2 separate regions of the Homo sapiens genome follow, and region 1 is linked to region 2. A link means that fine-mapping ties the variant in region 2 to the expression of a gene that starts in the linked region. Tissue or cell type: whole blood. Region 2 holds a variant in brackets; the other region holds the start of a gene. All regions are shown on one strand. Distances are between the middles of the regions.

Region 1 (5,146 bases), 190 kb after region 2:
AGCAATTCTCCTGCCTCAGCCTCCCAAGTGGCTGGGATTACAGGCATGTGCCACCACAGCTGGCTAATTTTGTATTTTTAGTAGAGACAGGGTTTCTCCATGTTGGCCAGGCTGCTCTTGAACTCCTGATTTTGTGATCCACCCGCCTTGGCCTCCCAAAGTGCTGTGATTACAGGCGTGAGCCACCTTGCCTGGCCAAGATTAAACATTTTTCATCAATTGTGGATGGTGGCTTATAACACTGCAAGAATAGGCTGGGCATGGTGACTCACAAGTGTAATCCCAGCACTTTGGGAGGCAGAGGCGGGCAGATCACAAGGTCAGGAGGTCAAGACCAGCCCAGCCAACATAGCAAAACCCGGTCTCTACTAAAAATACGAAAATTAGGTGGGCATGGTGGCATGCGCCTCTAATACCAGCTACTCAGGAGGCTGAGGCAGGAGAACTGCCTGAACCCAGAAGGCGAAAGTTGCAGTGAGCTGAGACTGCACCACTGCACTCCGGCCTGCAAGAATAAAAGTAAGTTATCCAAAAAAAAAACAAAAAGGAGAAGAAAAGGGAGGAATGAAGGAGAGAGATGGGGTTGGGGGGCAGAGATGAGAGAGAGAGAAAGAAGAAAAAAGAAGAAAGAAAAGAGAGAAAGAAGGAAGGAAGAAAGAAAGAAGGAAAGAGAAAGAAAGAAAGAGGAAGGAAGGCAGGAAAGAAAAGAAAGAAAGTGAAAGAAAAGAGAAAACGGTGCTCCCAGCAAAGGGTACGACCTCAAGATCTGGAGGTCAGACCTGTGCCCTCACGCTCTGCTGGGCTCTGAGTCCTGGAGACGTCGATGAGGAAATCAGAGGGACAAACAGAGCTGGGGACGGCGGGGATGGGGAGAAGGACACATCAGCCGTGCGCCTGCGGGACCGGGGCCGGGGCGGGGGGTCCAGTATGACGACTGACATGGCCAGTAATAAAACAAGGCAGCCACAGAGCTGCAGGGATCTGAACAAGAAAACCTGGGGCCAGCCTCCCTGCTGCCGACCACCACGCTACACGTGACCTACGGGCTTGCGTCCGTGGGAAATAAGCCGAAATTCCAGGCGTCCCCAGACCCTCGACCACCGATCGCCTGCTCCCCGCCGGGGTAGGCGATGGGGGCTGAACCAAGGCCCAGAGCGCCGCCGTCGGACGCCCAAGGAAAGAGGGGAAAGACAGGAGGCCCCGAGGGGCACTGAACCCGCGCCCGCCCTCGCTGGTGCCCCGCCAGCTCACCGTCCACGTGCAGCTCCAAGCGCTCGCTGGGCGCGGAGCCCCCGAAAGGCGGCTTCAGGTCCACGTAGACGCAGCTGTAGTTGGCGGAGTCAGCCACGGAAATGTTGTGCAGCTCGAAGAGCGCCTCGGTCCCAGCGGGGCTCTGGAAACGGTGCACGCGGCGCCCGCCCCTGTCCTCGCGCACCAGGGCGAAGCGCGCGCCCTCCAGGGGCGCCAGGCACCGCAGCCGCAAGGCCCTGCCGGACTCCGGCTCCGGGGAGAACTCCGGCGCGGGCAGCGTCTCTGCGGAGCAGCACACGGGCTGACCCGGGCGCCCAGCGGCTGGCTCGGCCCTAACGCGTGGTCTGGCCTCGCGCTCTTTGCCTTGGCTGAGTCTTCTGCCCGCAATGACCTGGCCAGCTTCCTCCCTCGCCTCCTCCGGGCCCGCCCCACCTTTGCATCCCAGTCCTTGGATATCTCACACGCACCCTTTCACTGTTTCTTAGTAATTTGTTTGTCTACAGACACAGACGGGAAGCGGGGACGGGGACATGTTTTGTGCATGGCTTGATGCCTGGTGCACGATGCCGCTCAGTAGTGGATTTGCTCCACGAGCGTCTTCTGAGCACCGCCCCAATGCCCGCCCCACGGAGGGGCCCCTGTGGTCCGCTGGGCATGGGGTTCGCTGTCCGGTGCTCAGAGTTTGCTAAATACCATCAGGTCCAAGGCAAGCGAGCGGAGGAGCTGCCTCAGCAGAGGCCCTCAGTGCTCACCTAGACCTGGCAGCTGGGATGGGACCTGCCAGGTGGTGCCCCCTGTGGCCTGGGCCAGACCTGTTCACCCAGTTATTCCCTGTGGGGCCTGAAGGTTGTCACGCTCATCATCATATTTGCAGTTTAGGACCCTGAATCGGCGGGTGGGCGGATAAAGTTGGTATTGGACCCTGGCCCAGAGCACTGCACTTCCCCAGACTCTACACCTGGTACTGCTCCTGCTCCCCAGGGACCCAGCCGCGTCCCTGTCCCTGCTGGCCCCGGCTCACCATCGCTCAGAATCAGCTCGACCGGCGCGCTGTCCCCGGACCAGCCGTTTTGGTTGTCATGCAGCCGGTAGCGGCAGGTGTAGTGACCTCCATCCCCCAGGGCCACCGCGTTCAGGTGAAAGAAGATGCGATCTGGGCTGGTGCTGCTCCTGGGTACCAGCAGCTCTTTCTCCCCGCGCCGTAGCTGGAAGTCCACTCCACTCAGGGGAGCCACGCAGGTGAGGGTCACCTTGTTGCCAGGGTGCAGGACCTGGGAGGACTCTCCATGGTGCATCAGCACAGGCGGTGGTGGTGCAGCTGCAATGCAGGCAGCATTACTAGGCTGCCCCATCCCTGGAGCTGCCCTCTGCCCAGTCCCCAGACCTCTGCCCTCCGGGTGGCAATCCCAGGAACACCCTTCCATTCTTTTTTTTTTTTTTTTTTGAAACGGAGTTTCGCTCTTGTTGCCCAGGCTGGAGTGCAGTGGCGCCACTCAGCTCACTGCAAGCTCTGCCTCCCAGGTTCAAGGGATTCTCCTGCCTCAGCCTCCTGAGTAGCTGGTACTACAGGCACCTGCCACCACACCTGGCTAATTTTTGTATTTTTAGTAGAGACGGGGTTTCGTCATGTTGGGTAGACTGGTCTCGATCTCTTGACCTCATGATCCGCTGGCCTCAGCCTCCCAAAGTGCTGGGATTATAGGCGTGAGCCACCGCACCCGGCCTCACCCTTCCATTCTTTGGGCATCCTCTGCCCAAACTCCTTTGCAACCATCAGACCCAGGCAACCGTGTGGCCAGCTTCCTGGACCTGGTCCTGGGCAAGGACATTCAGCATGGAGGTCAGGATGAATGTGGTCATGCCCCCTGTATCCTCCTCCCCCAGCAGCCCCCAGAGATGGTTCCCACAGTCACCGAGCTCCTCAATGGTCACAGTAGCGCTGGGCTCAGAGAGGGCGCCTTCCCCATCGGTCCGGTAGCTGCAGCTGTAGTTGCCAGGCTGATGGACTGGAAAGGTGGCCTCCACATCCTCCTGGGCCTCAGGCACCTCCAGAAACTCATGGTCGCCCTCCCGCCTCAGCAGAAAAGTCACACCCCGCAGCACACCTCGGCACACTGCTGTTGTTTTCAGGCCGGGGGTGATCCAGGACACTGGCGCCATCGAGAGCCAGGGAGCAGGCAAGGACTCTGTGGGTGGGGTGGAGTTGAAGAGTGCTTCTGCATAACAGGAGACGTGGGAAGCCCAGCAGAACCTGGGCCCCACACTCATAAGACTGTGAAGGAGACAGGGATGGAGGGCATTGCTGGGAAAAGGCAGGCAGGCACCAGTGGAAACAAGGCATACGGCAAGAGAAAAAGAGTGTGTGGGAGCTGTACGGCATGCCGGGCCTGCTGGGGACACAACCATGTATTCCTTACAACACAGACATCATCCCCATTTGACAGATGGGAAGATTGGGGCTTGGGGCTCAGAGACATCGGGTGACTTGGAGGAAGGGAGACCCCCCAGTCAACAACCTACCCACTGCCTCCTGGCCCCCAATTCATGCCCCGGCTCACTTGGCCCTGTCAGCTCCAGGAGCTTGCTCAGCTGGGTCCATCCTGTGGACAAGCCCGAGCGGCAGCGGTAGCGGCCCTGGGTGTCACCCGTCAGCAGGAACTGGTGCTTGATGGCAGGTGAGTCAAGGTGCACAGGCTCCTGGGCCACCCCATTCTTGAACAGCTGGAAGTCTGGAGTCTCCAGGTGGGCCTGGCACGTCAGCGTCACATTGGCCAAGGGTTTCAGCAGTGATTCGGACTCTGCCCACAGGCTGGGCTGCGTCTCATAAACTGCAAGGGGTGGCTGGGATCAGCTCAGTGCCACAGAGACAGGGCTCCCCCCCGGCCTGGGCCCACCATTCCCAGACCTCACCCCTGCACTCACATATGGCTGCTTCTGTCACTGGGCCCCAGGTGACACCTGCGGAGACAGCCCCCGTAAGGCTCCTGTTCCCGCCCCCTCCCGCCCCAGGGACCCAGACCCCAGGAGGCCTCACCCCACAGCAAGAGAAAGACCACGAGCATGGACATGATGGTCGCGCTCACTCCGGTGCAGTGAGTGTCTGGGGTGAGCGTCTGCAGCAATGAGGCCCCAAGGGAGGGCGGTGGGGTGGCTCGGGCACTGACCTCTTCCCGTGTTTGTCCTTCCCGGAAGGCGGGGGCAGGGCCCCCATGGGGTCAGGGCAAAGGGTGAACTTCTGAGGCCTCAGGATGCCCAGCAACAATTATAATCAATAATCATGTATGATTAATAAACTAAATCAAGAGTGATAAAATGATGTTAAAACCACCTCATCCTCATTTCAGTGATGGATCCTAGAACCTGTTCTAGAAGGAGACGCTGAGTTCTCCCCACTCTACCTGGAGCTGCTGAGGTCAAGTGGAGAGTGCCGGGGCTGAAGCCCAGCGAGCCCCTCCCTGTCACACCACACTGCACATGTGACACCAAAGGTGGGGTTCACCTCTTTTCAGACTTTCTGCGGTTGCCCTCACATGGGCTGTCTGGAGGTGCACCCTCACTCTTCCTGAGGACTGTGGTTCCTTCTCCATCACTGGTTCATTCTGCATGGTGTGACCCACCACGGCTCTGGAGTCGGATTTCCACCCAGGTCATTCAGCTGAGACCTGCGCTTCCCAGGCCTACCCGTGACATGTGCTCAGTTACCTGAGCTGCTGGTGGTCACTCATGTGGCTATAGCCTGCTGCCTGGAGGCCAGGCCTCCCGCTTCCCCTGCCTCCCCCTCTCCTCACCACAGCCTGTTGGGATGGAACAGGACAGGGGTGAGACCGTGGTGCTTTCACACTCAGCCTCCATGGACATCCTGTCATTCCCACCCGGGGAGGTCTGGTCCCCACCC
Region 2 (5,146 bases):
AACTGCTACAAGTACAATTCCTAGATGCTAGCGAGAATGGCATAAATATTTAAAATAGTTTTAGTTATATATTATGAAATTTCCTTTCATACGTCTTCTACCATCAGTGTGAGAAGGTCACCGCCACCCACGTTCACCCAGCAGATACTCATGTTCTCTAAGCTTTGCATGTCTCTGTTGTTTTCTGTTGTTGTTTGTTTGTTTAAGACGGAGTCTTGCTCTGCTGCCCAGGCTGGAGTGCAGTGGCACTGAGAGGTGACAGCGTGCTGGCAGCCCTCGCTCGCTCTTGGTGCCTCCTTAGCCTCGGCGTATGCTCTGGCCATGCTCGGGTAGCCCTTCAGCCTGCCACTGCGCTGTGGAGCCCCTGTCTGGGCTGGTTGAGGCCGGAGCCTGCTCCCTCAGCTTGCCGGGAGGTGTGGAGGGAGGAGGCGCGGGCGGGAACCTGGGCTGCGCGCGCTGCGCTTGCGGGCCAGCTAGAGTTCCGGATGGGCGTGGGCTGGGCGGGCCCCGCACTCTGAGTGGCCAGCCGGCCCCGCCAGCCCCGGGCAGTGAGGGGCTTACCACCCGGGCCAGCAGCTGCGGAGGGTGCGCTGGGTCCCCCAGCAGTGCTGGCCCACCGGCGCTGCGCTCGATTTCTCGCCGGGACTTAGCTGCCTCCCCGCGTGGCAGGGCTCGGGACCTGCAGGCCGCCATGCCTGAGCCTCCCCGCAACCCCCGCCCTGGGCTCCTGCGCGGCCGGAGCCTCCCCGACGAGCGTCGCCCCCTGCTCCACAGCGCCAGGTCCCATCAACTGCCCAAGAGCTGCGGAATGCGGGCGCAAGGCGCGAGACTGGCAGGCAGCTCCACCTGCGGCCCTGTGCGGGATCCACTGGGTGAAGCCAGCTGGGCTCCTGAGTCTAGTAGGGACTTGGAGAACCTTTATGTCTAGCTAAGGGATTGTAAATACACCAGTCAGCACTCTGTATCTAGCTCAAGGTTTGTAAACACACCAATCAGCACTGTGTGTCTAGCTCAGGAGTTTGTGGATGCACCAATCAGTGCTCTGTGTTTAGCTAATCTAGTGGGGACTTGGAGAATTTTTGTGTCTAGCTCAGGGATTGTAAATGCACCAATCAGCACCCTGTCAAAATGGACCAATCAGCTCTCTGTAAAATGGACCAATCAGCAGGATGTGGGTGGGGCCAGATAAGGGAATAAAAGCAGGCTGCCCGAGCCCCCAGTGGTAACGTGTTGGGGTCTGCATCCACATGGTTGAGGCTTTGTTGTTTGGCTGTTTGCAATATATCTTGCTGCTGCTTGCTCTTTGGGTCCGCATTGCATTTATGAGCTGTAACAGTCAATACCAAGGTTTGCAGCTTCACTCCTAAGCCAAGGAGACCATGAAGCCACCAGAAGGAAGAGACTCCGAACACATCCAAACATCAGAAGAAACAAATTCCAGAGACGCTGCTTTTAAGAACTGTAACACTCACTGCAAGGGTCTGTGGGTTCATTCTTGAAGTCAGTGAGACTAAGAACCCACCATTTCCAGACACGCACAATCTCAGCTCACTGCAACCTCCGCCTCCTGGGTTCAAGCAATTTTTTTGCCTCAGCCTCCCGAGTACCTGGGACTATAGGGGCGCATCACCACACCCTGCTATTTTTTGTATTTTTAGTAGAGACGGAGTTTCACCATATTGGCCAGGTTGGTCTCAAAACTCCTGACCTCGTGATCTGCCTGCCTCGGCCTCCCAAAGTGCTAGGATTACAGGCGTGAGCCACTGCGCCTGGCCTGTTCACTGTTTTTGTGTAACAACTTACCACAAAATTACCAGCTTAAAAACCACATTTTTTTTCTTTTTTTTGGAGATGGAGTTGTGCTCTGTTGCCCAGGCTGGAGTGCAGTGTCACGATCTCGGCTCACTGCGGGCTCCGCCTCGTGGGGAAAGCCACGTGTATTTATTATCTCAGTGTTCTTGTGAGTCAAGAGTCTGGGCATAGCTTAACTAGGCCCTCTGTTTAGGATCTCCAGAGGTAGCAATCAAGCTGTCAGCTGGCTTCATTCCCATCTGTAGACTTGATTATAGAAGTATCTACTTTCATGTTCATTCAGTTGGCTGAATCCATTTCTTTTTTTTCTTTCTTTTTTTTTTTTTTTTATGAGACGGAGTTTAGCTCTTGTTGCCCAGGCTGGAGTGCAGTGGCGCGATCTCGGTTCACCGCAACCTCTGCCTCCCAGGTTCAAGCAATTCTCCTGCTTCAGCCTCTTGAGTAGCTGGGATTATAGTCATGCACCACCATGCTTGGCTAATTTTGTATTTTTAGTAGAGACAGGGTTTCTCCGTGTTGAGGGTGGTCTCGAACTCCTGACGTCAGGTGATCCACCTGCCTCGGCCTCCAAAAGTGTTGGGATTACAAGCCTGAGCCACCGCGCCCCGCCTGAATCCATTTCTTTGCAGCTGTAGAGCTCACAGTAGCTTCCTTTTTTCAGGCCACCAGCAAGAGTCTGTAAGTAAGCCTTCTTATTTATTTATTTATTTAGACAGAACCTCACCTCGCTTTGTCATTCAGGCTGTAGTGCAGTGGCGCAATCATACTTTACTACAGCCTTAACTTCCTGGGCTCAAGCATTTCTCCTGCCTCAGCATCTCAAATAGCTGGGATTACAGGCATATGCACCACCATGCCTGGTTA[AT/A]TTTTTTTTTTTTTTTTTTTTGAGAGGGAGTCTTACTCTGTCGCCCAAGCTGGAGTGCAGTGGTGCGATCTCGGCTCACTGCAACCTCTGCCCCCTGGGTTCAAGCGATTCTCCTGCCTCAGCCTCATGAGTAGCTGCGATTACAGGCGCCTGCCACCACGCCGGGCTAATTTTTGTATTTTAGTAGAGACGGGGTTTCACTATGTAGGTCAAGCTGGTCTCGAACTCCTGACCTCAAATGATCTGCCTGCTTCGGCCTCCCAAAGTGCTGGGATTACAGGCGTGAGCCACCGTGCCTGGCCATGCCTGGCTAATTTAAAAAAAAATTTTTTTTGTTTAGCCAGGCTTGGTGGTGTGCACTTATAGTCCCAGTTACTTGGGAGGCTGAGGCAGGAGAATGGCGTGAACCCGGGAAGCGGAGCTTGCAGTGAGCCGAGATTGCGCCACTGCAGTCCGCAGTCCGGCCTGGGCGACAGAGCGAGACTCCGTCTCAAAAAAAAAAAAAAAAAAAAAAAAAAAAGATCAGTAGATACTGAGAAGGAGTTGGAACTGCAAAAGGTTTATTGGGGGGCATACCTCACACCTCTATTCACACCACATGAGCTAACATCCTGTTTGCTAAAGCTAGTCTCATGTGTTTTAGTCCCAAGTCAAGGAACAGGAAGAGGTTCTGTGTTAATTATCCACTGCTTTGTAAGAAATTACCCCAAAACATAGCTGCTTAGGCCAGGCACGGTGGCTCAAGACCAGCCTGGCCAACGTGGTGAAACCCTGTCTCTACTAAAATAAATTAGCAAAGCATGGTGTTGCGCACCTGTAATTCCAGCTACTCGGGAGGCCAGGGCAGGAGAATCATTTGAACCCCAGAAGCAGCGGTTGCAGTGAGCCAAGATTGCACCATTGCACTCCAGCCTGGGCAACAGAGTGAGACTGTCACAAAAACAAAAACGGGCCAGGCGCCGTGGCTCACGCCTGTAATCCCAGCACTTTCGGAGGCCGAGGCAGGCAGATCACGAGGTCAGGAGATTGAGACCATCCTGGCTAACATAGTGAAACCCCATCTCTACTAAAAATACAAAAAATTAGCCGGGCGTGGTGACAGGCGCCTGTGGTCCCAGCTACTCAGAGGCTGAGGCAGGAGAATGGCGTGAACCCGGGAGGCGGAGCTTGCAGTGAGCCGAGATCACGCCACTGCACTCCAGCCTGGGCGACAGAGCGAGACTCCGTCTCAAAAACAAAAACAAAAACAAAAACAAAAAACAAAAACATAGCAGCTTACAACAAGGGAAGACAACTTTTTCTGTAAAGGACCAGACAGTAAATATTTTAGGTTTGGGGGACTATATGGTCTCTGTTGCAACTGTCAACCTTGTTGTAGCACAACAGCAGCTATTGACTATACATAATACATGGGCAGAGCTGTATTTCAGTAAAACCTATGGACAGTTGAGTGTGGTGGCTCACACCTGTAATCCCAACACTTTTGGGGGCCAAGGTGGGAGGATCACTTAAACCCAGGAGTTCAAGACCAGCCTGAGCAACAAAGTGACACCCCATCCCTACAAAAATAAAAATAAAAAAACTTTATGGGCCAGGCGCGGTGGCTCACGTCTGTAATCCTAGCACTTTGGGAGGCCAAGGTGGGCGGATCACGAGGTCAGGAGATTGAGACCATCCCGGCTAACACGGTGAAACCCTGTCTCTACTAAAAATACAAAAAATTAGCCAGGCGTGGTGGTGGGCGCCTGTAGTCCCAGCTACTCGGGAAGCTGAGGCAGGAGAATGGAGTGAACCCAGGAGGTGGAGGTTGCAGTGAGCTGAGATCGTGCCACTGCACTCCAGCCTGGGTGACAGAGTGAGACTCCGTCTCAAACAAACAAACAAACAAACAAAAAACTTCATGGACACTGAAATTTGAATTTCATATAATTTTCACATCACAAAATATAATTATTCCTTTATTTTCAATTATTAAAAGATGTAAAAACTACAATTAATTGATCACAACCAGTTACAGATTTCTTTGTTCTTCTCCACTCCCACTGCTTCGTTTGACCAGCCAAAACAACAAAAAAAAGAATTTTAAAAAATATAAAAACTACTCTTAGTTCATAAGCCATCCCCTCCCCAAAAAGGCAACAGACGGGACCAGACCTGGAAACTATAGTTTGCTGACTCCTAGCAGTAACAAATTACCACAGATTTAGTGGCTTAAAACAAAATAAAGTTATTATCTTATAGTTCTGGAGGTCAGAAATCCAAAATGGGTTGGCTTTCCTTTGGGAGGCATGAGTGGAGAATACATGCCTTCCATTTTCCAGCTTCTAAAGGACACTTACATTGCTAGGTCTATGGCCCTGAGTCACTCCAACCTCTGCTTCCATCATCAAAACTCGTTTTCTGATTCTGACTCTTCTATCTTCCTCTTCCACATTTAAGTATCCTTGTGAATACACTGGGCCCACTCAG

The links. PIP is the estimated chance that this variant, and not a neighbour inherited with it, causes the effect.
Region 1: it holds the start of A1BG-AS1, and the variant in region 2 is fine-mapped to the expression of A1BG-AS1 in whole blood (INTERVAL, PIP above 0.99).

Annotation. Positions count from the first base shown.
Region 1 is chr19:58,349,119-58,354,264 of GRCh38, forward strand. A1BG-AS1 (A1BG antisense RNA 1) reads left to right here and starts at 2,852. Exons shown (of 4, transcript NR_015380.2): 1 at 2,852-3,926; 2 at 4,261-4,356; 3 at 4,596-4,739. A1BG (alpha-1-B glycoprotein) reads right to left here and starts at 4,374. Exons shown (of 8, transcript NM_130786.4): 1 at 4,286-4,374; 2 at 4,174-4,209; 3 at 3,810-4,079; 4 at 3,165-3,437; 5 at 2,273-2,569; 6 at 1,252-1,533. The coding sequence starts at 4,319.
Region 2 is chr19:58,156,879-58,162,024 of GRCh38, forward strand. All of the region lies in intron 1 of LOC124904784 (a long non-coding RNA gene), which reads left to right. Among named protein-coding and RNA genes, the nearest start is that of ZNF329, 8.7 kb to the left of the region's middle. The variant AT/A (reference allele first, on the strand shown) is at 2,677.